2 separate regions of the Homo sapiens genome follow, and region 2 is linked to region 1. The links come from fine-mapping of genetic effects on gene expression. A gene starts in region 1. The other region holds a variant in brackets. All regions are shown on one strand. Distances are between the middles of the regions. Region 1 holds the start of PLEKHH1 (pleckstrin homology, MyTH4 and FERM domain containing H1). Region 2 overlaps PLEKHH1 (pleckstrin homology, MyTH4 and FERM domain containing H1).

The links. PIP is the estimated chance that this variant, and not a neighbour inherited with it, causes the effect.
Region 2: its variant is fine-mapped to the expression of PLEKHH1 in thyroid (GTEx, PIP 0.98).

What each region holds. Positions count from the first base shown.
Region 1 is chr14:67,527,244-67,539,863 of GRCh38, reverse strand. It overlaps PLEKHH1 (pleckstrin homology, MyTH4 and FERM domain containing H1), which reads right to left and starts at 6,574. Exons shown (of 29, transcript NM_020715.3): 1 at 6,466-6,574. It also overlaps a transcript of GPHN not described here and a transcript of TMEM229B not described here. RefSeq lists a silencer at 6,481-6,950.
Region 2 is chr14:67,561,248-67,573,867 of GRCh38, reverse strand. PLEKHH1 (pleckstrin homology, MyTH4 and FERM domain containing H1) reads right to left here. Exons shown (of 29, transcript NM_020715.3): 6 at 11,833-11,914; 7 at 10,974-11,731; 8 at 4,652-4,730; 9 at 3,856-3,947; 10 at 1,966-2,116; 11 at 1,591-1,733; 12 at 482-592; 13 at 1-67. It also overlaps a transcript of GPHN not described here. Among named protein-coding and RNA genes, the nearest start is that of PIGH, 33 kb to the left of the region's middle. RefSeq lists an enhancer at 2,222-2,401. The variant A/G (reference allele first, on the strand shown) is at 4,140.

The DNA.
Region 1 (12,620 bases):
AACCTTACAACAACCTGTGAAACAATAGGTAAGCACTGTTGTCCACACACACATGAGGACACTGAGGAACAGAGAAGCTAAGTAATTTACAGATAATTGTACAGCTAGTTAATGGTGGAGCTGGGATTCTGGTCCCAAATTCCTTGTTCATTGCCACTCTGTGCTCTTTACCCATCCAAAAAAAATAAAAAGAATTTCAATTTCACAAAGAGTGTGGTAGACTTGAAAATGGCAGAAATCGTTTCTAGGATCTTTCAGAAGCCTTAGCACAAGGATGAACCTATATCCCAGATTTCCCAAGACATCTTGGGCTCAAATATTCTGACACCATAATCTCCCCAAGCACTGACCTTTACCATGTATCCTGACTTTTCATCTAAAAAATAAGACCTGCAGAGAAAGGCCCAACAATTAAACCACTGATGGACCGAGTAAGCTCGCTTCTTGGTTCCTCAGAACACATGACTTCAGCGCTGCTCTCCCAGCCCTGTCATCTAAACAATCCCTGCATTGTGACCTCCCAGCAATCCCCATCTCAAAAGACTAGGACCAACTGGAACGGGCAGGAAGACAAAAGACAAAAACAAAACATGACCTTCTCTGAGCTAAGATCACAGCTGAAAAGACAAAACAGAACCTTGTAAGGCTCTCAGAGAAGGCCGGGAGGCTTCATGTTTGATTTTTCCTTGTCCTTTACTGGGATTTTGCTTTTCCTTGTATAAATAGGAAAAGTGGCAGATCTGAGACTAGGACCTGGGAGTCTCGCAACTCAGTTCAGGGCTAAGAAATAACAGTAAAAGCATAAAAGCAAGGGGCAAGGGAAATGTAATCCCTTTGTATAGTTGAAAGAGTTTGATTAATATTGATTCCCTCTTACTGATTGTCAAAGCTGCTGCTCAGATTCTATTGGGAGAGTGAAAACCCAAATTATCAAAATCTCCAAGTACTTTGGAAATATGTCACTGGTGTCTGCCTAGCCCTGATATCTGAGATTATACCTAGTTTAGGGAATGCTTTCCCCAATCAAGCATCTCCGTAACATCATGGTTCTGAACTGATCAAGTGGTCTGTTTAATCCTCTCCCTGCCTTGGGGATGGAGAGGATTAACCACCCTCTCCCTGGCAAGTTGCTGAGGAGGTTGGGACTCGTGCTTGGCTTGCCTCAGCATGTGAGGAGAGCAGAGAGGTTTTGAAATAGATCAGGAGCAGGGTGCCTGCTGCCAAACCCAAGGCCCAGAGGCTCTTCTGACAGAAGCAGGTGGTCAGAGCAACAGCTATAAAATAAGGGAGGTTAAAGGAAGATACCAGTAAGCTGAGCCTCACCTGCTAAGTCACCTTGCACTTATACCTCCCATAAAAATGCACAAGGATGAGCAGAAATGAATACCTTACATTTGCAGTAGAGTTTGTAACTTGTCAAAGCATTGCGACGCATGTGTTATTTCTCTCTTTATCCCTGAGATGGAGGACGAACACAATTAGTCACAATGAACAGATGAGAAAACTCATCACATCTGTGACTTGCTTAGAGCCTTGCATAGAGCTAAGGAGTAGCAGAACTGGGCCAAGAATCCTGATCTCCCAATATCTACAATTGTCCTCTTCCCATGATGATGCTTCAGTAGTGGTAGCAGATATCTCATACTAACAGGCTAGTCTAACACAAATACATTAATGGCAAAAAATAAATGGGGAAATGAGAGAGGGGAAGTGAGCTGGAAACAAAACTCAGCTCAATTTTTTTTTCTATTTTTATTCTGGAATGCTCTATCACACATTAGAAATAGGGAGAATAGTACAATAAGTCCCTCTGTCCCCAATACCCCGCTAAAATTACGATCAGCTGTTGGCCAGTCTTATGAAACTCATAGTTTTCTTGATTCTGCTGGCACCCAGCCTGCTAAACTGCTTGGCAGGTGAATCAAAAAACTGCCATAGTCTTGATACCTGCTTTGGCATCCCCTGAATCCTCCAACACCCGGGACTGAAATGCCACAGCAGTCAGTGGGGATATGCCCCAGAGGCAGGGGCTGGGAGTAGGATGGGTGGGAAGGTGGCACAGGAAGTCATTAGGTGACTCCAGACTCAGAGTCTGTATCAGAGAAAACACAAATTTGACCTGGGATCTCTCTGGCAAGTTTGAGGATTTTGAGCAGAAACTGACAAAATGCTAAGATTACTTTTTTTTCTTTTTCTTTTGAGACAGGGTCTCACTCTGTTGCCCAGGCTGGAGTGAGTGGCACAATCATGGTTCACTGAAGCCACAACTTTCCCAAGCTCAGGTGACCCTCCCACCTCAGCCTCCCAAGCAGCTGGGACTACAGGCGTGCACCACTGTGCTTGGCTAATTTTTGTATTTTTTGTAAAGACAAGGTTTCACCATGGTGCCCAGGCTGGTCTCGAACTCCTGGGCTCAAGTGACCCACCTGCCTCATTATTCTAAAGTGTGTTGAGCCACTGCGCCCAGCCTAAGATTAAGTTTTTATTATTATTATTATTATTATTATTATTATTATTTTTGAGATGGAGTCTCGCTCTGTCACCCAGGCTGGAGTACAATGGTGCAATCTCGGCTCTCTGCAACCTCCGCCTCCCGGGTTCAAATAATTCTCCTGCCTCAGCCTCCTGAGTAGCTGGGATTACAGGTGGATGCCACCACACTGGCTAATTTTTGTATTTTTTGTAAAGACAGGGTTTCACCATGGTGCCCAGGCTGGTCTCGAACTCCTGGGCTCAAGTGATCTACCTGCCTCATTCTTCTAAAGTGTGTTGAGCCACTACACCCAGCCTAAGATTAAGTTTTTATTTTATTATTATTATTATTGAGATGGAGTCTCGCTCTGTCACCCAGGCTGGAGTACAATGGTGCAATCTCGGCTCACTGCAACCTCCGCCTCTCAGGTTCAAACAATTTTCCTGCCTCAGCCTCCTGAGTAGCGGGGATTACAGGCGGATGCCACCACACTGGCTAATTTTTGTATTTCTAGTAGAGACAGGGTTTCACCATGTTGGCCAGTCTGGTCAAACTCCTGACCTCAGGTGATCCACCTGCCTTGGCCTCCCAAAGTGCTGGGATTACAGGCGTGAGCCACCACTCCCGACCCCAAGATTAAGTTTAATACAAACAACTTTTAAGTGAGTCCTGTGTGCAAGATTGGGGATATAAAGATGAATAAAGATATTGTGGCTTTTGAGGCTCAAGTCTACAGCCTGAATATCCTGGTAGCTCCCTACAAAGGTAGCTAATCAATACAGGACCCTAAAAGAAAGAGGTCAGAGGTCACCACAGGCCTCAAAATAGCTCATTGCCTCTATCTTGTGGAGGATGCAGGAGGCATTGGAAGGCAACGGGGCTTCTGTTATATGCACAGTTTCCACTGGGCTCTCTCATATTGCCTCAGTATGGTTCATTCCCTGAGTGTGAGTATCTGTATGACTTCCACTTGCTAGTGAGGGGCTACCACCATCTTCTAAAAGTGCTCTGCCAGACGTGGCTGACTACTTGTCAATTGTGGGAGAGAAACAGCTTTGTGTCCCGTTTCTGGGGATGAGGCTGGGAGAAGGGTGTGAGTGTACACAGGGACAACTTCCTCTGATCTCAGCACTGTCATCTGATCAAGCTAACAACATCCATTTGGCCACTGCTGGGTGCCTACATGACATTCCACACAATGTCCGGGGAGACAGAGAAGGTGAGCATGTCCTAGGCCGCAGGAACCTCAATACCAAAAGAAGTGGTCAGGACAACCAGGTACAACATTCCTTGAGAACAAAAACAGCAAAGAGAAACAGCTTAGTACCTAAGATCCCATGCTCTGGCACTGACAGGCCTGGGTTTGAATACGAGCTCAGGCACTAAATAATCCTGTGGCCTTAAGCCATTTGCTTAACTTCTTTGAGACTCAGTTCCATTCTGAAATTGAGGGCAGTAATATTTGAAAATCAGGACAATAATATTTGGTTGAACCATATGAAACCGTCATTTAACCATTTTCCAACCTTCAAAATGGCCATTTCATATATCACATCATGCAGGGCTTTTTGAGAATTAAAGGAGATATTACAAAAGCCTGGTGCACACTAAGTACTCAATAAATGACTGTTATTGTTGTAATCAGCAAACAAAGGCAAACCAATAGCATCTAGAACATAAAAGGAGATGTGGCCCAAAGATGTGCTCACGAGGCTGGGCACGGTGGCTCAAGCCTGTAATCCCAGCACTTTGGGAGGTGGAGGCAGGCGGCTTACCTGAGGTCAGGAGTTCAACCAGACTGGCCAACATGGTGAAACCCTGTCTCTACTAAAAATACAAAAATTAGCCAGGTGTGGTGGCGCATGCCTGTTAATCCCAGCCACTTGGGAGGCTAAGGCAGGTGAACTGCTTGAACCCTGGAGGCGGAGGTTGTAGTGAGCTGAGATTGCACCACTGCACTCCAGCCTGGGCAACAGAGCGAGACTCTGGCTCAAAAAAAAAAAAAAAAAAAAAAAAAAAAGATGTGCTCACTACCAGATCTAACTCTGGAGATCTGGAGAGGAGGTCATATGATTTTTAAAGTTATTTTAGAACATTGAACAAAAGGGTATATAGTGCAAAGTAAGGCTTCTTCCCATGCCTGTACTTCAGCCATAGTTCTCCCCAGCGGCAACCACTGTTACAGGTTTCTGTGTGTTCTCTCAGAGATATTCAGAGCATCTACAGGCATTCATATGTATGTGGCATTCACACACCCACCCAAAAATCGTGGCCCACCATACACACTGTACTCAACAATATAACTTAGAGATATTCCTACATCAAAGTATATATCTGCCACATTTTCTCTGCACGCTTTATAACAGCTTTAATGTATCCTATCGTGTGGCTTTTACATGATCTTATTGAAGGGTTCCTTATTGATGGACATCTAGATTGTTTCCAACCTTTTGCTAAACAATGCTGCAATGAATATTCAATGATGTACACCATTTCATATACATCAGAGTATATCTGAAGGATAAAGTCCCAGAAAATGGAATTTAGGGGTAAATGATGTACACTTTAAATTGCCAGACATTTCTTTGGATTTTTTTTTTTCTATCAGGAATGGGAGGAACATGCTCTCCCCTACAGCTGGTGACTTCTGAAGAGGGCAGAAGAGGCTCCACATTTTTTCAGCTTAGTTGTTAGTTTCAATGAGTTTGGGGCCACAGGCTGCACCCCACAATTGCCCAACTCTGAGCAGGCCCCCTCAGCAGTCTATGGGAAGGTGGTAGAAGTGGACTGAACCATACGTTAGGAATTTAGGAGGCTTGGGTTTCAGTTATGGCTCTTCCACTTTTTAGCTATGTGACCATGGGCATATCACAACAATTTTTTTTTTAACAGACAGGATCATCAGCCTCCCAAGTTAGCTGGGACTACAGGCCCACACCACCACACCCAGCTAATTTTTAAATTTTTATTTATTTGTAGACACAGGGTCTCCCTATGTTGCCCAGGCTGGTCTTGAACTCCTGGCATCAAGCTCTCCTCCTGCCTTGGCTTCCCAAAGTGCTGGGATTACAGGCATAAGCCACTGCAACTGGCCTAAATCACAACTTTTCAGAGTCCCAGCTTCCTCCTTTGGAAAAATGGGGCCAATAATATGCAGAAACACTAATACCGATGTTCTATAAAGCGTTCAGTGATGGTACTAGCCCTATACACAGTGTCTGTCACATAGAAGACAGTCCAAACAGTTTGATGAAGGAACTGATAATTCTCCCACTGAATTTTTTAAATGGTCTTTCAAGTGTTTTACCTGAACCAAGGCTCTGTCTTGGAAGAGTTTTATGAGGTGGATTCATAGTAAAAGCTATGGAGGAGATATCCTGGCAAGCAGAAATCCCACAAGGAGAGGAGTTTCCTTCCAGATGAGGCTCTTCACCGCCTCTGCCACCCCCACTAAGGCCCCTGGTTCCTGGTGACCGAGTCCTCGCTAAGACTCCTAGGACACAATGCTCTGTGTCATTCGGCGCCCAACCTGTTTTCTTTTCTGCTTGAATGACCTGCTCCTAGGAGTCGAGCCTGAGCCATAGGGTCCCAAAGACAACACTCAGAAATCACAGAAGAAATAACCTGAGGTGAGATGGGGAGGGGTGCGGGAAGGGGTGAAAGGGAGCGAGCACCGATAGCAAGGTGGCAGCCTGCACGTCCGCTCCGAGGGCCCTTCCCAGGAGCGGCTGGATCTGACCGATCCCCAAGTCCAGGTACTCCCGGGGGAGGCTCCTCCTGGCCTCGCGGCGCGAGTCCCCTGGGGCGCCCGGCTTCCCAAGCCAGACCCGCGCTCCAGCGCTCCCCGCCGCTGGGAGCTCGCTTCCAGGTAGGGAGGCACCTGCTCCGGATCGTCCTCTGGGCCCGAGGGGCCGTCCCCCGCGCGCAGCCTGACGCCCTCCGCCGCGGCGCAGCCCCAGCCCACCACAGCGGCGGGAGCGCGGGTCGCTCACCTCCAGCGAGCTCGCGGCCGTCCCCGCCGCGCACTGGGCACACGGGCGCCCTCGGGCCGCCGCCGCAGCCGACCTTGCGTCGCTCTCGCCGGAGTCCCGGGCTGCCGCCGGTTCTCCCCTCCCCGGCAGCAGGGGTCGTGGGCTGCGGGGCGGGGCGAGGCTGGAGCGGGAGGGGTGCCCGCGGGCTCGCTGCACAAAGCCCGGCCGAGCCTTGCTGCGCCCCATTCAACGCTCCGCCGGGCGCCCTCCTCCCCTCGGCTCCCCGCCCGCTCCTTAAAGGCAGAGCGCTGGGCTCAGCTCTCCAGGCAGCTCGCGGAGAGGCACAGGAAATGACCTCAGCAGGCTCCAGCCTCCCACTTCTCCGCACCGCTGGGCTCGTCCCTGGGGCGGCAGGGAGGGCGGCGGGGTGTCCCGGGCGCCGGCCCGGAGCTCTCCGAGGAGGCCGCACCAGCTGCCGCAAGGGGTGGCCAGAGCGCCCCGGGGATCTGCTTGACCCCAAATAGCGGGGGACCCTCGCGGGCTGCGGGACAAGACCAGACCGTCTCCGCCAAAGGTTCCAGCATTCTCCTGGCCACCTGTGGGAACTGTAACGTCTGGATATTTGGAACAGAAGTCCATATTTCAGTCTGGCAGACCAAATGTTCTGAGTTGCAATTTGCAGGAGAAAAAGAAAAAATAAGTTACGACAGCCCAGAGAGTAACTTACTTGCTTATTTTCTGGTCTCGCTATGTTGCCCAGGCTGGACTCGAACTCCGGAGCTCAAGTGATCTTCCCGCCTGGGCCTCCAGGCCGGCTTATGTATATGTTATTTTAAAGGAGGGCCCAGGAGGACCCTGGCTGCCAGGCAGTTTGCAGGGCAGTCATCAGCGTGCCCATGTGCTCCTCGTTCTCAGACATTTGCAGATCTCAGATCGCCCAAAGCAATCTCATACCCAGAGGGGTTGGAAAACTCAACATTTGGCTAGGTGAGCCTGGAGTAAAGAAGATGCAAATAGAGACCATTGCAGGGAGGGATCCACACTTCAAAACAGAGCCTTCTTCCTCAACCCTGCAGGCTCTCTGTCAGTGAAGGACTGAACAGAAGCAAAATACCATCAGCGCCTGTTTCTCCAAATGGTCCTTGGAAGACTCATCCCAGGCACCATGAAGAACACCCCCACCCTGGGTTTGAATCTGAATCTCTAACTAAAGTACCCCAGGCCATTCTCACGTAGAAGTTTTGAGAGCCCAGACACTAAGGAAAGCTGGTAGTGCAGGAGGCCAAACGTGAGAATTTAACTGGGCCAATGGGACTTCAATGGCTGAACTTGCAAACAGCTTTATAGCTCGTGGGGATTGGGATAGATTAGCCCCATTTTGTGGGACAATGCTCAGGCTATCCACTTCAACATTCCAGAAGTTGCATAAGGAAGCCCAAAAACACGTTCTCTGGATTTTGCTAAGAAGACATTAATTCATTCATTCACTTTTTTTTTTTTTTTTTTTTTGGACATAGGTTCTTCTTGTTCTGTTCTCCAGGCTGGATTGCAGTGGCACAATCATAGCTCACTGTAACTTGAACTCCTGGGCTCAAGCAATCCTCCCATCTCAGCCTCATGAACAGCTGGGACTATAGGCACATGCTACTATACCCAGCAAAAAAAAAAAAAAAAATTTTTTTTTTTTTTTAGTAGAGGTGGGGTCTCAAACTCCTGGACTCAAGAAATCCTCCTGCCTCGGCCTCCCAAAGTGCTGGGATTACAGGGATGAGCCACCGCACCTCGGCCCAGAACTCATTTAATATAACTTTGTTATATAGTGAAAAGAGACGCACCATGGAGAGTGGAATGGGAGGAGCATGCTCTCCCCTATAGCTGGTTACTTCTGTAGAGGGCAGAAGAGACTCCACATTTTTTTCAGCTCAGTTGTTACTTTCAATGAGTTTGGGGCCATAGAGTGCATCTCACCATTGCCCAACTCTGAGCAGGACCCCTTGGCAGTCTGTGGGAGGGTGGTAGAGGTGGACTGAACCCTACATTAGGAATTTAGGAGGCTTGAGTTTCAGTTATGTCTCTTCCACTTTTTAGCTATGTGACTTGGGCAAGTTACAACTTTTGTTGTTGTTGTTGTTTTCTTTTAAGAGATAAGATCTTGCTCTGTTGCCTAAGCTAGAATGCAGTGGCAATCATAGCTCATTGCAGCCCAGAACTCCTAGGCTCAAGCAGTCCTTCTGCCTCAGCCTCCCAGGTAGCTGGGACTATAATACCCACCATCACCCCTAGAGCCCCTTTCTTTGGATATTAGCTTATTATTACAAGTGACCTGACAAAGGAGAATGGAGGATGGAACAGAGAGATGGGAAGAAAAGCCATCATGTGCCTGAGTTGAAGGATATGCTAGGGCATTCTTGTGAAAGAAGATGAGGCCGGGATGGGGACTTGTCAACTGGTCTGAGCCAATTTAGTCCTTCAATGATTGTATTAGCTGCCATGGGACGTGAGAGGTGAGAGGAGGCCATTCGTCTTCTTTTCTGTAATCTCCTGCAGGTGGGATATTAAAAATAGTTAAGGCCAAATTCTGCCAAATATACATGTATTGGCAAGCTGGCACAAAACAGTCACACAGCCTGCTTCAAGAAAATGGGGCAGTTGGCCTGCTCTGGCTCTCACACTCCATTCATGCAAGGGCAAATAATCTTCCTGGCCAACTCCATGTTTTGAAAACTGCTTATTTCACCAATAAAAGATTATTTCTAGCATCCCTCAAGCACATTAAGCCCTTGGGTGTATATTTTGATGTTGTTTGAAGTGCTTATGTAACCATTTTCTGGAGTGCGGATTCCTGATTAGGGCACTTCAGATGCTAACTAACCACTCTAGGAGTTACAGGAGAGTCACTTTATATACACACACTACATGGTTTAGGCTGGAATGTTTAAAAAATAAATTCCTACAGAGTCAATATTACAGCATCTTAGTCTGGGCCTTGTTCCTTGGACAGCACTATGGGAGGGAAAGGGGAACTTGGAACTGGCCAGAGCTCAGTTTAAGCTTTATCACTTAAGTGGTGGTGGGACCTTGGGGCAGTTGCTTAAGGTTTCTGAATTAATTCCATGTTTGTAAAATAATGATGATAATAATTCTGGCCTCTTAGGGTTGTTGAAATGATTAAATGAGATAGTATGTTGTCTGGCATGCAGCAAGTGATCTATAAATGGAAGCTTTTGTTATTTATTCTTTGAACAAATATTGGCTGGAGTTTACGAGAGATCTTGTAAATCTCTGTTTACAAGATTGCAATGGATAAGCAGATGGCTTGAGAGACAGGAATAACTCTAGGAGAGCTGGTGAAATGGTTGACAATTCATCTTCCCTTGTACGAGCCTTCTAGAAACCCTGCTTCCCATCCCTACCTGCTTTCTCTGAGCTCCAAAGAGACCCTCTCCTATATCACCAAAAAAGCCTCAAATCAAGGGATCCCCTCCTCCTGCCTTCAGGACCTGGTTCTCAGTTACTGTTGGAAGGGGAAGAGAGGGGAGAAGAAGGAGAAGGGAGTTTCAGACTCCCAGGAAACTTGGGGCCAGTCCTAGTCCAGGCTTCTGCTCTCTGCCTTGGGTCACAAAGAAGTCAGGAGGTTACTTCTACTGCTGAATCTTTGGGAGCAATTTGGCTCTTCGGTGATTGTCAGGATTAGCCACCATGGGACATGAGAGGTGAGGTAACCATGGGTTAGAGCAGAGTGTCAAGAGTCACCATCTAAGTGGGGCTAGGAAGGCAGTGATTGGACATGCAGAGAAGGGCCAGTTAGGAAGGAAAGGAAATGGCCCAGTGGCTAAATCCTCAGTGTGTGTGTGAGCGTGTATATGTGTGCATGTGAGATGGGTATGGAAAGATGGGAGGAAGTGTCCTAACTTTAAGTATGGACTCTTCTTTCATTTATTCATTCAGTTACTCACTAACAAATATCTATTGAATACTTGCTATTTTCCAGCCACTGTGCTAGGAAGGAAAGTGTGGCAAGTGTGACCTATCAACTCTGGGCACAGGCTTTAGAACTAGACATGCCTGTCCTTGAATCCTGGCTCTTCCACCCAGGGGACACAGGGTGGAAGTAATGCAGTTACCACATACATTCACTGCAAATAATCTGTTCAGTATACCTGTGGGTATGGGAGCCAGAGAGAGCCAGGCAGCGGATGGGGAGGGGAGGGAAGGTGTTCCTCGTTTGTAAATCAGGAATCAGAATTCCTTCCTTAGAGAGTTATTATAAAGATGGAGATAAAGGGCCTGCCTCAGTGCCTGGCATATTATTGGAATCTAGTAAATATTATGAAATGAGGAGGGAACTTGAAGGTGTAGAGGTGTAAAGGACTAGCAAGGCGCCCAAAGACTAGGGAGCTGGAAAGTACCCAGGAGGAGCAGCATGGAAGGAGGGCCTGGTGGAGAAGGATTCCAATGAGGAGGTGGGCAGTGATTCCAAATCTAACCTCATGTCTTAAAATGCTGATCTGAAAATACAGATTCCAGGCCACCTCTAGCTATTCAGATCAGTGGGCCCAGGAGTCTGCATTGTCACGCACCTGTCTGGGGTCTGTATTGACTGGTATGCCCTTGAGTGATTTTTCTCAGAGAGCAACTGCCAGGGCGGAACTGATGTAATTACAACACATATCAATGCAAAATGCTCTGTCCGCTGCAGCTGCGGGTTATACGGGCAAGAGAGAGCCAGGTGAATGGGGGCTTAATGGGATAGGGACAGGAGAGGGAGGGAGAAAGAGCACCTGAGTTGGGAGCTGGTGGAGCTCAGGGAATGAGGATCAGGTAAATCCAGCCATCTGACTGCAATTCTAGATCATTTTAGAGTTTGCAACATCCTAGTTTTAAAGCAGCTGTCTTATTTCTCCAACAGCTTTCATCAAAGATGAGAACAATGGCTGCTCACATCAATTGGGGGAGGGAGGAACTGGGCAGGGACCAGCTTTAAGTAGGTGGCAGGTTCTCCAACAGCCCAGGGAGCCTGTGTGGGGAGAGACTAGGGCTCCAAGAAGCCAAGGAAACCCAGGCCTGTCAGAGAGCTGCCAGTGACCCTTTACTTTTCTGGGACACATGTGTGGCCGCTGTAGACAATGGGTTTTCATGCTGACAGTGGGGTTCAACTTCCAGAGTTCAAATTCCAGCTTTGGCACCTAGCTCAGTTCTTGGCACTCAGTAAGTACTCAGTAGATGCTGGTTGTTATTATTATCTCCTCAGCAGAAGACAGACCCAAGCCAAGAGAAAGGAAAGTCTCCCAGCCCTACCTCACCCTCACACTCCAATCTATCTGAGTCCCCACCAGCCCATCTCAGAGCTGAACTACGAGAGGTCCTGTGTTCATACATTCATCATGTGCTTGCCGAGTGTCCACAGTGGGCCACTGTAGGAGAGGGAGAGCGTGGAGGAGTAGGTGGCTCAGTACAGGGCAACTGGACTTTGGAGGGCCTCTTCATGCTCCTTGACCTCCCCTCCTCAAAGCCACTACTTTCGCTGACAGGAAGAGGCCAGAGGTCTGGGGTGGGGTCCTACATGCAGAGCTGTGAGTGAGTTCTTGCTCAGCCACTACTTTGCTCCGCAATCTGAGGACATCTCAGCAACTCTTTGTGCCTCACCTAACTGTAAAATAGAAGCAGGACCTTCGTGGCTGCCATCCTCAGCCTGGAGATAAGGAATTAATGGACACTTCACCAGGGTCATGCTGGGGAATGAGGGGCTGCTGCGGTACAAAACACATTGTTGGTTTATCTGAGAATTGCTGAATGGGAATAGAAGCAACTTCACCAAAACACACCGGGGACACAGCCAGCCATTGCAGGGCACTGCAAACAAATGAAATCTTTCTTTCTAATCTCCTAATTAAAAATCGAAACATTTAAAGCCATATTTATTGAGGGCTGACTTTGTTCCTGACCCACTAAACATTTTAGGAGGAATCATCTTTTTTTTTGAGATGGAGTTTCACTCTTGTTGCCCAGGCTGGAGTGCAATGGTGCGATATCGGCTCACTGCAACCTCCGGCTCCCGAGCTGAAACAGAGGAATCATCTTAATTCTCACAATTCTCTGGAGCTGAAGCCATTTTTATCTCCATTTTATAGATGCATAGACTGAGGCTCACGAAGACCAAGTGTCATGGCTAAGCT
Region 2 (12,620 bases), 34 kb before region 1:
CCCCTCGAACAATTTGGCAGCGGGAGTTCAGATCCACTTGGCCTTGAGGTTTCCGGATGACATCACTCTGTAAAGAAAGTATTGGAGAGGAGAGCCACTGAATGTGGAGCCTTTCCGGAGCACCTCATTTACCCTCAGATCTTCCTCCACGTCATAAGCAAAGGGAAACATGATTCCCAGCATTCTGGCTGTGTTATGATGGGTGACTTATTCTAGATTCTGGTTATAGCTAAATGGAACCTTAATCAGGAACATGGGTCCTTCTGAGAACCTCCCTATTTCATTCTGAAACTCACGGCCAGGCTTAGGTCCCCAAGTGTGGCTCAAAGCCTCAGGGGCCCAGTGAGGTTGCCTCTCCCCACCTGCCAGACCTTTGCCCTCTGGCCTTGGGCCACATTCCCCCTCCTCCGTCCCATCTGACATAGTCCAGGGTGTGATGTGGAGACCTTTTGACTGCAGTGCTGGGCGGGGAGACTCTCACCGGGGACTTGTAGTACATAATCTGTCCCTGTCTCAGGACAAACCAGCGCCTCTTCCACGTCTTCACCTGGCTCCCCATTTTCAGCAGGTAGCCCGACTTCTCCAGTGACTCCTGAGGGGTGGAAGGGTGTAGATGAAGAAAGGGGAAATCACTCAGGGCTCCTAGACATCACACAGGTCCAAGTGGTCCAGCTGCCTCACTACTCGGTCATCAATTAAATACAAAATTATTGAGTACCTACTCAGTGTATTTTCAGAGTACCATGCCCTGCTATGGTTCAGAGAGGACTAAATAAAACATGGGTGGTCCTGCCAAGGAAGGGCTCCCATGCTAGCTGGGGAAGACCTCACTATGAGAAGGTAGCAGAGCAGGGGCTGCTAGAGGGAGAGCCTGGCCAGGGAGAGCGTCAGGAGAGAGCCGGCCCTGAGCTGGCCTTGTTAGGATAGTTCAGCCTCTCCCTCAAAGACTGAGAGGAGGAAGAAGACCATTCCAGGCAGCACAGAGCAGGGAGAGGGCAAGGCAGGTCTGGGCAACCTGGACACATCAGCCAGGCAGGACTGGAGGGTCATGGAGCCAGGGAGATGATGGGGCAGCAGAGAGGTGTGGGGCGAGGGATGCGGAATTACATCGGGAGTGGATGCTAGCCCTGGCATGTAGTGGCACAGCTTGGAGCCTCAGGCTTCTCATCCATAAGATGGGCTAATGACCCCAAGAGGATTGTGAGGACAAATGAGACAATGCCTGGAAACTGAGCACAGTGCCTGGTGCCAAGAGTTCAATAAATGTTAGCTTGCGTTAGTATTCCAGGTGATAAAACAAAGTCATATATGGAAAACTCTTCATGGGGCCTGGTGGGCCACAGTAGGCTCTCAGTAACTGGCCATTGCTGGTATTCCAGGAGCTCTCTGGGCTCCCTCCTTCCTTCCTTGTGGGGTCTGTGTGTCTGACTCCATAACTGTACACCCCCCCAGCCCACGCCCCCTGCCCCCATCCCCCAGCTCTAGGGACCCCTCACTTCAGGCAGCTACTGCCTATGTCTTGTGCTGAGGGCCCCAGCAGCCTCTGCTGCATTCTGCTTCCACCCTGCCCCCGCCCGTTTCCCGGCTCACCCCGCCCAGGCCCAGCCCGTCGGTGGAGTAGGATGAGGTGCGCTGCAGTTTGTGCTCAGGCTCTGAGTAGTCACTGTCCAGTGAGCAGGCGTCCGGGGGGATGGCGTAGTCACCCTCGGAGCTCAGTGAGGACATGGAGACGCCTTGCCGAGGGAGGAGGAGTCAAGGCCCGGGTCCCACACCTCCCCGACTCACGCAGCCCAGGAGCTGCTGAGACTTGACCACCCACCCGGGACCCGGTCTCTGGGGCTGGGGGTGGAGCTGCTGGGGGGTCACGAGCTCAGATCAAGTGGGGACGCCCATGTTCAAGTGCCCATGGGAAGAGGTGAGGGGCTCCTTGCTGCTGCACCCTGCCCCTGCTCCCCTTCTCTGTACCTCTCTTGATGGCCCGGGGGCTGCCTAGTCCGCTGGTCTTCCTGGACTCAGAGGAGGGGACCGAGATTCGGAAACTCGCCTGAGAGCTGCAGTCATCGTCAGACCCAGAGGACTCGTCCATAAAGGGCATGTTGCTGATCTGTGTAGCTCTCTGCAAGACAGGCCCCTCCCTCACTGCAGCTCAGGCTGCAAAACAGTCCTCTCCCAACCCTGCAGCTTGCACTCCTGGTCCAAGTGCCCATGGTGTGGCCAACCCCCAGCCGGGACTCTGAACAGACAACTGTCCAGTGTAAGGTCCCTCCTGGCCTCACTCCTGTGTCATGACCTCCATGCTTCTCAGGCCTCCCTTCCCACACACCATCTTCTGTGGTCCCCAAAGCAGCTGCCCATCACGACTGAATGCCTGCCCACTGTGACCCTCGCTCCTTGCCACTAGGGGGCCAGAAAGCTACACCACAGACTAAGTGTGCCATGCGAGCTTTAAAAATGTGTGGGGACGTCGCAACAATCAATGATTGCATCTCCATTGGCAAACATTTAAAGTGACTGACTATCTCAGTGTTGGTGAGAGTATGGGGAGAAGATGGGGGAAAAAACTCTAGTGTGTAAGGCATTTTTAGAAGGTAATTTGGCAGTACCTGTCAAAAATTAAAACATGTATATAATTTGCCCAGAAATCCCACCTCTAGAACTCTGTCCTACAGACACATGTAGATATAAGTTCCCAAAGATATATGTGCACAGTGATGTTCATGGCAACATTCATTTTAGAGAAAAACAGGGACACAGACTAAATTATTATTGGAGGAAAGCTTTAGGTATTAATAGTTATGGTGCTTCGATACCAAGGGTACTGGACACCTATAGAAGGAGGAGGTAGGGGCCAGGCATGGTGGCTCATGCCTGTAATCCTAGCACTTTGGGAGGCTGAGGCAGGCGGATCACAAGGTCAAGAGATCAAGACCATCCTGGCCAACATGGTGAAACCCCGTCTCTACTAAAAATACAAAAATTAGCTGGGCATGGTGGTGCGCGCCTGTAGTTCCAGCTATTCAGGAGGCTGAGGCAGGAGAATCGCTTGAACCCAGGAGGTGGAAGTTGCAGTGAGCCAAGGTTGCACCACTGCACTCCAGCCTGGCAACAGAGCCAGACTCTGTCTCGGAAAAATAAAAAGGAGGAGGTAGGGAAGGATGACCTGACACGTGGTTATTCACGTGGTTAGGGGAACAAGCAAGGCATAGAATGACATGTATATGAGCACCTTTTGTGTGCACACAGGAGACAGTGAGAGTGTGCTGCATATTTATAAATGCATCGGAAGGCCTTACTGAATAAACACTAAACCATTCATGATAGCTTCCTCTGGGCTTAGGAATTAGGGAAAAGCGACGTGAGAGGAAATTTCACTTTTGGTTTTTTATTCTTCTATAAAAAATTTTATCAAGTATTACTATTATTCAAAAACCAGTAACAGAGACAAAAATGTGTATGAAAATATTGCAATTCTATCTGATTTTTGTTTTTAAAATGTAGTGACGTTACGGGAATATAAGTTGGAATATACCTCAGTAATTCTAGAAGGAGCCCCACTGCCCTCTGGGACCTGAGGAGTGAGGCAGACATGAGAAAAGGTGGGGAGAGCTGTAAAGCGGGCATAGGCTTAACCTTCTTACCTTGTCCACGTTCATACTGATTCACATTTTTGTAAATGTGGAATTTTTATAATAACCTAATAAACAATAAAACAAAATGACACGTGCTGGGCTCAGCTCCCTGGGCAGGGTCACCATGTGCAGAAGCCTGGCCCTAGAGCCCCGCCCCAGTCATTGGATGATGAGGCCAGGGGCCTTTCCTGATGAGACACCCCCTCTTTGTGCAGCAGTTTCTTACCCCCTTCAGTGCTGTGTAGACAGGCACAGTGACATTCTTGTAGACCAGGCCAGAGAAAGACCCAGGGGAAACAAGGGCAGGAGGGCTTGAAGCTGAGCAGGGAAGAGAGGAATGAGATTACTCAAGGGCATAACCCAGGAAGGGGTGTGGGGGAAGCAGAGAACTGGGCAGATGGCATTCCCTCCAGGAGCAGGCCAGTGACAGATCTCAAGAGGGGGGCCAGGGCCCTGTTCATCTTCTCCCCTTGACTCCCTTTGGGGACCATGATCTCCATGTGGTAAAGG[A/G]TCCCTCACAAAAGAATCCAAAAGCCTTACCTTTAACCATTTTTTCCTCCATGAGGCTTGCACAGTGTTCCACTGTTGCAGATGTGAGTTACAAATCATACGGCTATGGGACCACCCCACAGCCCTCGTTGTGGAGATTTGGTGGCTGGCTGGAGAGGAGCCAGTGAGTGGGGTTCATGTAAATCAGGACACTTGTGGCTCCTCCCACCCACGGCCCTGGCACTGCAGAAGCGAAGCCTGTGCAGGTGGGAGGCTGGGCTGGAGGCCCCCTCTCAGATCCCTTCCAGCTCTGTGACTGGCTACTTTCCTGTGATGGGCTGAACCTGTACGACTTCCCTTTCCCTCCTAGGTGGGACTTGCTGTGATTTCACCTGAACTTCACCTGCTGGGGAGGGGAACAGGGTAGGCCAGCCAACCCTGGCCCTGGGTGTTGCTTGGAGTCTTCTCCTCCCCGCTTGCCCACCCTGCCCACCTTGGGTGTTTGGTGCCTCCAAGCCTCACTTGGAACTCACCGCAGCATGCAGTATTACTTCTGGGAGACATATCTGAGAGCCGCATGCCCGATGTGGCCACAGCATAGATCCGGCTCTCCTGAAACAAGAGGTCTCAGGAAGCTCAGGGCCCGGCATGATGCCCATCCCACCCCCTCCAGGCATGTGCAGGAAAAAGCATGGCTTTGGGGGTGGGCAGACCTGTGGGGGGCAGTGACTGGCTAACAAATCTTGGGCAAGTTACTTCATTTCTGAGACTCATTTTCCTCTGCTCTAAATGGAGGTAATAATACTTACCTTTCAGGCTGCTGTGAGAATCAATGAAATACTTAACATAAGCATTTAACACCTGGAATATAATCAGTGCCCAACAGTTCCCTCTCTTGCCTCCACCCTTCACCTTTGGGGCAAAGGAGGTTCAAGAGAAGATGGGTCAGTAAACTGTTGCTCTGAATCCTACCCGTTTTAGAGACCCTTGGGTCTCAAGATCTAACCCCCAGAAGTTGGGGATATTGGTAATGAGGAAGCCACTGCGGCCACACGACAAGGGCTCTTTTGTAAGCCAGTTGTTTGGAACTTAGGGCACATTTTTAAAAAATTCTCTATTGTTTCTTTTTTTAAAAAATAATTTGTTTGTTTTTTAAGTTCCAGGGTACGTATGCAAGATGTGCAGGTTTTTATGTAGGTAAACGTGTGTCATGGTGGTCTACTGCACCTAACAACCCATCACCTAGGTATTAATCCCAGCATGCTTTAGCTCTTTTCCCTAATACTCCCCCACCGCCACCATCCACTGACAGGCCCCACTAAGTATGTTCCCCTCCCTGTGTCCATGTGTTCTCATTGTCCAGCTCCCACTTGTAAGTGAGAACATGCAATGTTTGGTTTTCTTGTTCCTACGTTAGTTTGCTGAAGATAATGGCTTCCAGCTCCATTTATGTCCCTGCAAAGGACATGACCTCATTCCTGTTTATGGCTGCACGGTATTCCATGGTGTATATGTACCACATTTTCTTTATCCAGTCTACCATTGATGGGCATTGGGTTGATTCCATGTCTTTGCTATTGTGAGTAGTGCTGTGATGAACATATGTGGGAACTTAGGGCACGTTTTTTCCCCTGCAGGAATAATGTCATATCATGGCTAGGCTTCAGGGCCAATCTACAAAGCCTATTTAGCCCAACAGGACTCCAGCACCCCCATGCAGAAGACACTGGGAGAATGCCCGTCCTGAGGGGGCCCCTGGGTCTGAAGTAGGCCACAGGCCAAAGGAGCTTTTCCTAATGGCCCTGACTGCTCATAAACAACCCACAGGGTTCCCTGCACCTTCTGGATCTGTTTGCTCCACTGAGCCTAAAGGAAAACAAAGGTGACGTGAGTCACCAAGGCTGACGAGGGAAGGTTGACCAGCCTTTGGAGGAATGCCCTGTTGGCTCAGGGAGGTAGCTAGATGTGCTGTCACCTGGTGGGGTCAGATGGGCTAGGAGATGGCATTGGAAGGGAGGTGGGTGCCTATCAGGGTGTCATCCCAGAGGGGAGCAGCAGCCCTGGGACAACTGGGAGGAGAGAGGGCAGAGCTGATGAGTGCTGCCATGAGACGCTGAGATCACTGGAGGGGCGGCAGGAGACAGAGGGGCGGTGAGGAAGGATGCCAAGGAGGGCCCTGCAGCAGGGCAGGGAGTTTCTGTGCTCGTGTAGGGCAGATACATCGAGCCCAAGTAAAATTCGGCATAAAAAGGATTATTTCTGCCCAGAGTGGTCATGGAATTTAACCAAGGACAAGCCTCTAACTTTGCAGAGGAAATGAAACTGAAGTTTGAAGGATTTAGGTAAAACGAAACCTATGACTGTTTGACAAAATGTTATCTAATGCCTAACTCACAAGGTTGTTTTAAGGATTAACTGAAAAAAGGGCTTTCCAAACTCTAAGATACATAAGTATTTCTCACACCGTCAGATTGAGAAATGTTCTCTGACATTTCATTCCCCCACCGCCCTCCCCAGATGGTTACTGCCCCATTGGTCCTGCCTGGGAGAGAGAGAGGCTGGGCTTCTGGCCACTGTGATTTCTTAAGCTCTCCCCGGAACACGGAACACGAGTGATCATGCCTCAGGGGCCTGGGAAGGAGCTAGCATTGTGTCTTGTTTTCCCCAGGAGCAAGTTACAAAGGGGATTGCAAACAGGATGAGATCTCCTTACATTCTTTTGGCTGATTCTTGGGTCCTTGGGGCCTAGCTGGGGGCAGGGAGGTTCTGTGGGAAGACCTGACGCTGCCCCTTAATACCTTAATCCCCTTAATACCTTCATCACCAGAGTTCAGCTGAGGTTCCTGGGGAGAACGTCATCTGATATATTTTCTATACAGAATAAGAGGAGACAATAACTCCTCGTCTCCCCATTCCTCCTCTCCTCCTCCACCCTCTCTCTCACACACATACACTTAACCTGTTCAGATAGAGAAGACCCACTCTTTTTTTTTTTTTTTTCAAGACAGGGTCTGGCTCTGTCACTCAGGCTGGAGTACAGTGGCAAGATCTTGACTCATGGCAACCTTCACCTCCCTGGGCTCAAACTTAACTTCCACTTAAGCCTCCTGAGTAGCTGGGACTACCGGCATGTGCCACCATGCTCAGCTAATTTTTGTATCTTTTTTGGTAGACATGGGGTTTCGCCGTGTTGCCCAGGTTGGTCTTGAACTTCTGAGTTCAAGCAGTCTACCTGCTTCTGCCTCCCAAAGTGCTGGGATTACAGGTGTGAGCCACTGTACCCGGCTCAAGACCTACTCTTAAGCTATCACAGTGAATGGCTGTATTTTGGCAAAATGGCAAAGTGAGCAACGCTTCTCTCTGGTAGCAGCTGCACATTCCTTGCCTGACTACTTCCTGCTCCCAACCTCTGCATTTGGACTCCAGAGCAAGAAGAGAGCCAGCAGCCCAGGGGGACCAGTGCTTTTCCATCCCCTAGTCTTCCTGATGTGCCCCACTCTTGGCTCAACTGGGTCTCCAGTCTTACAGGTGTCCTTGAAACAACCAGAAGCTGATCAACAGTCACTGCCAAGGATATAGCCCAAAAGTCTAGGGCTGTGTGCCTCCCGAACCAGCATTTCTTTGTTTTGTTTTGGAGATCGTCTCCTCTGTCGCCCAGGCTGGAGTGCAGTGGCGCAATCTCAGCTCACTGCAACCTTCGCCTCCTGGGTTCAAGCGATTCTACTGCCTCAGGCTCCCGAGCAGCCAGACTATAGGCGTGCACCACCATGCCCAAATAATTTTTGTATTTTTAGTAGAGATGGGGTTTCGCCATGTTGGCCAGGCTGGTCTCGAACTCCTGACCTCAAGTGATCTGCCTGCCTCAGCCTCCCAAAGTGCTGGGATTACAGGCATAAGCTACTGAGCCCGGATTTGAACCAGCATTTCAAAAGGAGGCCCTGGGAGTTACTGCTGGAAATACAGGTCTCCCGAGCAGTGGTGTGGGGTGAGTCCACCCTGATGTCACCCCCTCTCCCAAGTGACCTCATTCCTCCTGCTGCCAGGAGCCAACGCTTAGCTGTCCCCCATGGTACTGCTACACACCCCAGCAGCATCTGTGGAGGGGATGTCTGCCCATGAATCAAAGACTGACCTTAGCTCTGGCAATGTCCCTTAAGAGGAAGTACAGCTGGAATGTGAGAGCTGGGCTTCAAAGCAGCTGGAACTACATTTAAAGCCTGGCTCTCAGACCGGGTAAGGTGGCTCTTATGGCTGACAAAGGAGGATCACTTGAGGCCAGGAGTTTGAGACTAGCCTGGGCAACATAGGGATACTCCATCCCTACAAAAAATTTAAAAAATTAGCCAGGTGTGGTGGTGTGCACCTGTAGTCCCAGCTGCTCAGAAGGCTGGGGTGGAAAGATCCCTTGAGTCCAGGAGTACAAGGCTGCAGTGGACTGTGATTGTGCCACTGCACTCCAGCCTGAGTGACAGAGCAAGACACCGTCTCTCAAGTAAATAAATAAATAAAGCCTGGCTCCCTCACTAACTACTACATGACCTTGGGCAAGTACCTAAGTCTGTGGGGAACAGTGGTTTCCTGACCTGTAAAAGGGAGAAACCACACCTTACTCCTTGCAAGGAAAGGAGCCCTTCCCACAGGCTCCGTGCGAAGCCCTTAATACCCACATGCCATTTTCACTAGTGACCTGTGAAATGTCATTTTTATAGCCTGTCTCATTTTTATTTTAACTTTTTATCATGGAAAATGTCAGGTACAGGGCCAGACACAGTGGCTCACACCCGTAATCCCAGCACTTTGGGAGGTCAAGGTGGGAGGACCACCTGAGCCTGGGAGTTCGAGACCAGCCAGGGCAACAGCATAGTGTTAGCCCATCTCCACAAAAAATTAAAAAATAGCTGGGCATGGTGGTGCATGCCTGTAGTGCCAGCTACTCGGGAGGCTGAGGTGGGAGAATTGCTTGAGCCCGGGAAGTTGAGGCTGCAGTGAGCCATGATTGCACCATTGCACTCCAGCCTGGGCAAGACTGAGCAAGACTCTGTCTCAAAAAAAAAAAAGGAAAAGAAAAAAAAAATGTCAGCCTGGCCAACATAGTGAAACCCTGTCTCTACTAAAAATACAAAAATTAGCCAGGCATGGTGGTGCATGCCTGTAGTCCCAGCTACTTAGAAGGCTGAAGTAGGAGGATTGCTTGAGCCCAGGAGGCAGAGGTTGCAGTGAGCCAATATTGCGCCACTGCACTCCAGCCTGGGCGACAGAGTAAAACCCTGTCTCAGTTAAAAAAAGAATGATCTCACGTGCCCATCGCCCAGCTTGGCAAAGGTTAATGATGTGTGGCCAGTCATGCTTCATCTGTGTCCCCACCCTTGGCCACCAACCAGATCATTGCTTCTGAAGTATTTCTACCAGACAGATATCAAGACATTTTATCCAATGTTACAAGTAAGGAAGCTGGCCTGGCGCAGTTGCCTATAATCCCAGCACATTGAGAGGCCTAGGCAGGTGAATCACTTGAGGTCAGGACTTTGAGACTAGCCTGGCCAACATGGTGAAACCCCGACTCTACTAAAAATATAAAAATTACACTTTGGGAGGCTGAGGCGGGCGGATCACGAGGTCAGGAGATCGAGACCATCCTGGCTAACATGGTGAAACCCCGTCTCTACTAAAAATACAAAAAATTGGCCGGGCGTGGTGGCAGGTGCCTGTGGTCCCAGCTACTTGGGAGGCTGAGGCAGGAAAATGGCGTGAAACTGGGAGGCAGAGCTTCCAGTGAGCTGAGATTGTGCCACTGCACTCCAGCCTGGGCAACAGAGCAAGACTCTGTCTCAGAAAAAAAAAAAAAACAGTTAGCCGGGCATGGTGGCACACACCTGTAATTCCAGCTACTTGGGAGGCTGAGGTGGGAGTACCACTTGAACCTGGGAGGCGGAGGTTGCAGTGAGCCGAGACCGTGCTACTGCACTTCAGCCTGGGTGACAGAGCAAGACTCTGTCTCGAAAAAAAAAAAAAAAAAAAGCCAGGCTCAGTGGCTCATACTTACAATCCCAGCACTTTGGGAGGCCCAAGAGGGTGGATCACCTGAGGTCAGGAGTTTGAGGCCAGCCTGACCAACATGGTGAAACCCTGCCTCTACTAAAAATACAAAATTAGCTGGGCGTGGTGGTGCATGCCTGTAATCCCAGCTACTTGGGAGGCTGAGGCGGGAGAATTGATTGAACCCAGGAGGCAGAGGTTACAGTGAGCCAAGATCATGCTATTGCACTCCAGCCTGGGCAGTAAGAGTGAAACTCTGCCCCCTCACCCCCACCCCCCAAAAAAAAGAAAAGAAAAAGAAAAACAAAGAAAGAAAAATAGCCAACACTTACCTACCACCTACTGTGAACCACTACTGTAAGTACTTTCACAACAACCCTATAAAGTAGGTACTATTATCCCCATTTTATAGACAGGGAAGCTGAGGCACAGAGGTTCAGTAACATGTCCAAGGTCACGTAGTTAACAGTTCAACCCTAGTGGTTTGCTTCTGGGGCCTATGCTCTTGACCATCATACCAGACCACCTGAAAGACTCACAAAGATTAAATGAGAAAAGGTATGCAGGGCACCCAGCTCAATGTATGGTGCACGGTGAGCACTCAGGAAATGACAGCCAACCGCCATTCACATCATTCTGAATTCTGGCGCTGACCCTCACTGGTTGTGTGGTCTGCACAGGCTCCATGGTACCTGCCTGCCAGGGCCACCATGAGGATGCCAGCAGCCTCCTCTCCTGCTCAGTGCATGGCTGTGCTCAGCCAGCAGTGTTCTTGCCATTAGCTCTGCTCCTCTGCCCAGCCCGGAGGTTGCCTCTTACCCAGGATGAAAACTGGTGCAGCGGGGGTGTAGGTGGCTTGTTACCCAGCTCCACTTCCTCCAGCTCAGCTCCAAGGGCCTTTGGGCTCTCTCTTTCCTCATTCTTCCCTGCTGGGGGTGGCTCCTCCATCTCCATCTTCTCTGGTTCCTCCCGGGACCTAGCTCGGGACTCCAGCTCAGGAAGGCCAGAGGGGTGGAGGGCTGAGAAGGCCTCAGTCTCAATGTTCACCACACGGCCAAAGTGCCCATGGCCCACCTGGGGCTGGCTGTGGTGCCTTTTGGCCAACTGGATGCTGTCCCGCGGGGTGCCAGGAGCCCGCACCTTTGGTAGGGTCAGACTGCTGCCAGGACCACCTTCCCTGGCAGAGGTCTTTGTCCCAGGGAGCATCCCTCTCTGAGCAGTAACCAGACCCTCACCCCAGGAAGCTGAACTACATCTGAAGGTAAGAAGCTTCATGCATGGCTGGTGGGGAGGGCTCTCTCTTCCCAGATGAGGTTGAAGGGGCTTGGCCTCTACTGTTTCCCCAGAATGGACCGTGCTGGAACTAGAATCCTCCAAGGGGCTTGCTGCTTCAGAAACAGAGTCCTTGCTCTGCAGGGCACCTGGGGAAGGTGCAAGCACAGCTGCCTTCAGACCCTGGGCCTGGGAGCCACTGTCCTGGCCCATAGGCTGGATTCCCGGCTCTGAAGGGACAGAATCCTGCTCTGCAGCTCCGTAGGGGGGCACCAGCAGCTTCCGTGAAGGAGCTATCTGAATAGCTGTGATTCGGGTAAAAACAGTCACATTGAGAGCTCCCGTAGCTCAGCCCCATACCCACCAAACACACGTACTGCACACCTGCACACCCTGGCCTGCCTACCTTCTAGCGCATCTTGAAGGGATCCCACCTGCTCCACCAGGCGCTGATTATGGCTTTTCAGATGCTGATTCTCCATCTCAAGCTGAGCAAAAAGAAAAATGAAGATTTAGGACACCCAGCCTACAGGTTTAGATGTATTTTTTCAATTCTTTTTTTTTTTTTTTTTGAGACAGGGTCTTGCTCTGTTGGCCAGACTGAATTGCAGTGGAGCAATTTTGGCTCACTGCAGCCTTGACCTCCCAGGCCCAACTGATCCTCCCACCTCAGCCTCCTGAGTAGCTGGGACCATAGACACACACCACCAGGCCCAGTTAATTTCGTTTATTTTTTTGTAGAGACAAGCTCTCGCTATGTTGCCCAGGCTGGTCCCAAATTCCTGGACTCAAACGATCTGCCCACCTCAGCCTCCCAGAGTGCTGGGATTACAGGCATGTGCCACTGAGCGTGGCTGCTGCATATTCTTTTCTTTTCTGAGACAAGGTCTGGCTCTATCACCCAGGCTGGAGTGCAGTGGTGCAATCTTGGCTCACTGCAACCTCTGCCACCAGGGCTCAAACCATCCTCCCACCTTAGCCTCCCACCTCAGCCTCCCGAGTAGCTGGGACTACAGGTGCACGCCACTATGCCCGGCTAATTTTTGTATTTTTTGTAGAGACAGAGATTTGCCATGTTGGCCAGGTTGGTCTCAAACTCCTAGTGTCGAGCAATCCACCCGCCTAGGTCTCCCAAAGTGCTGCTGGGACTACAGGTGTGAGCCACTGCCCCCAGCCTGCATTTTCCTTTAAATT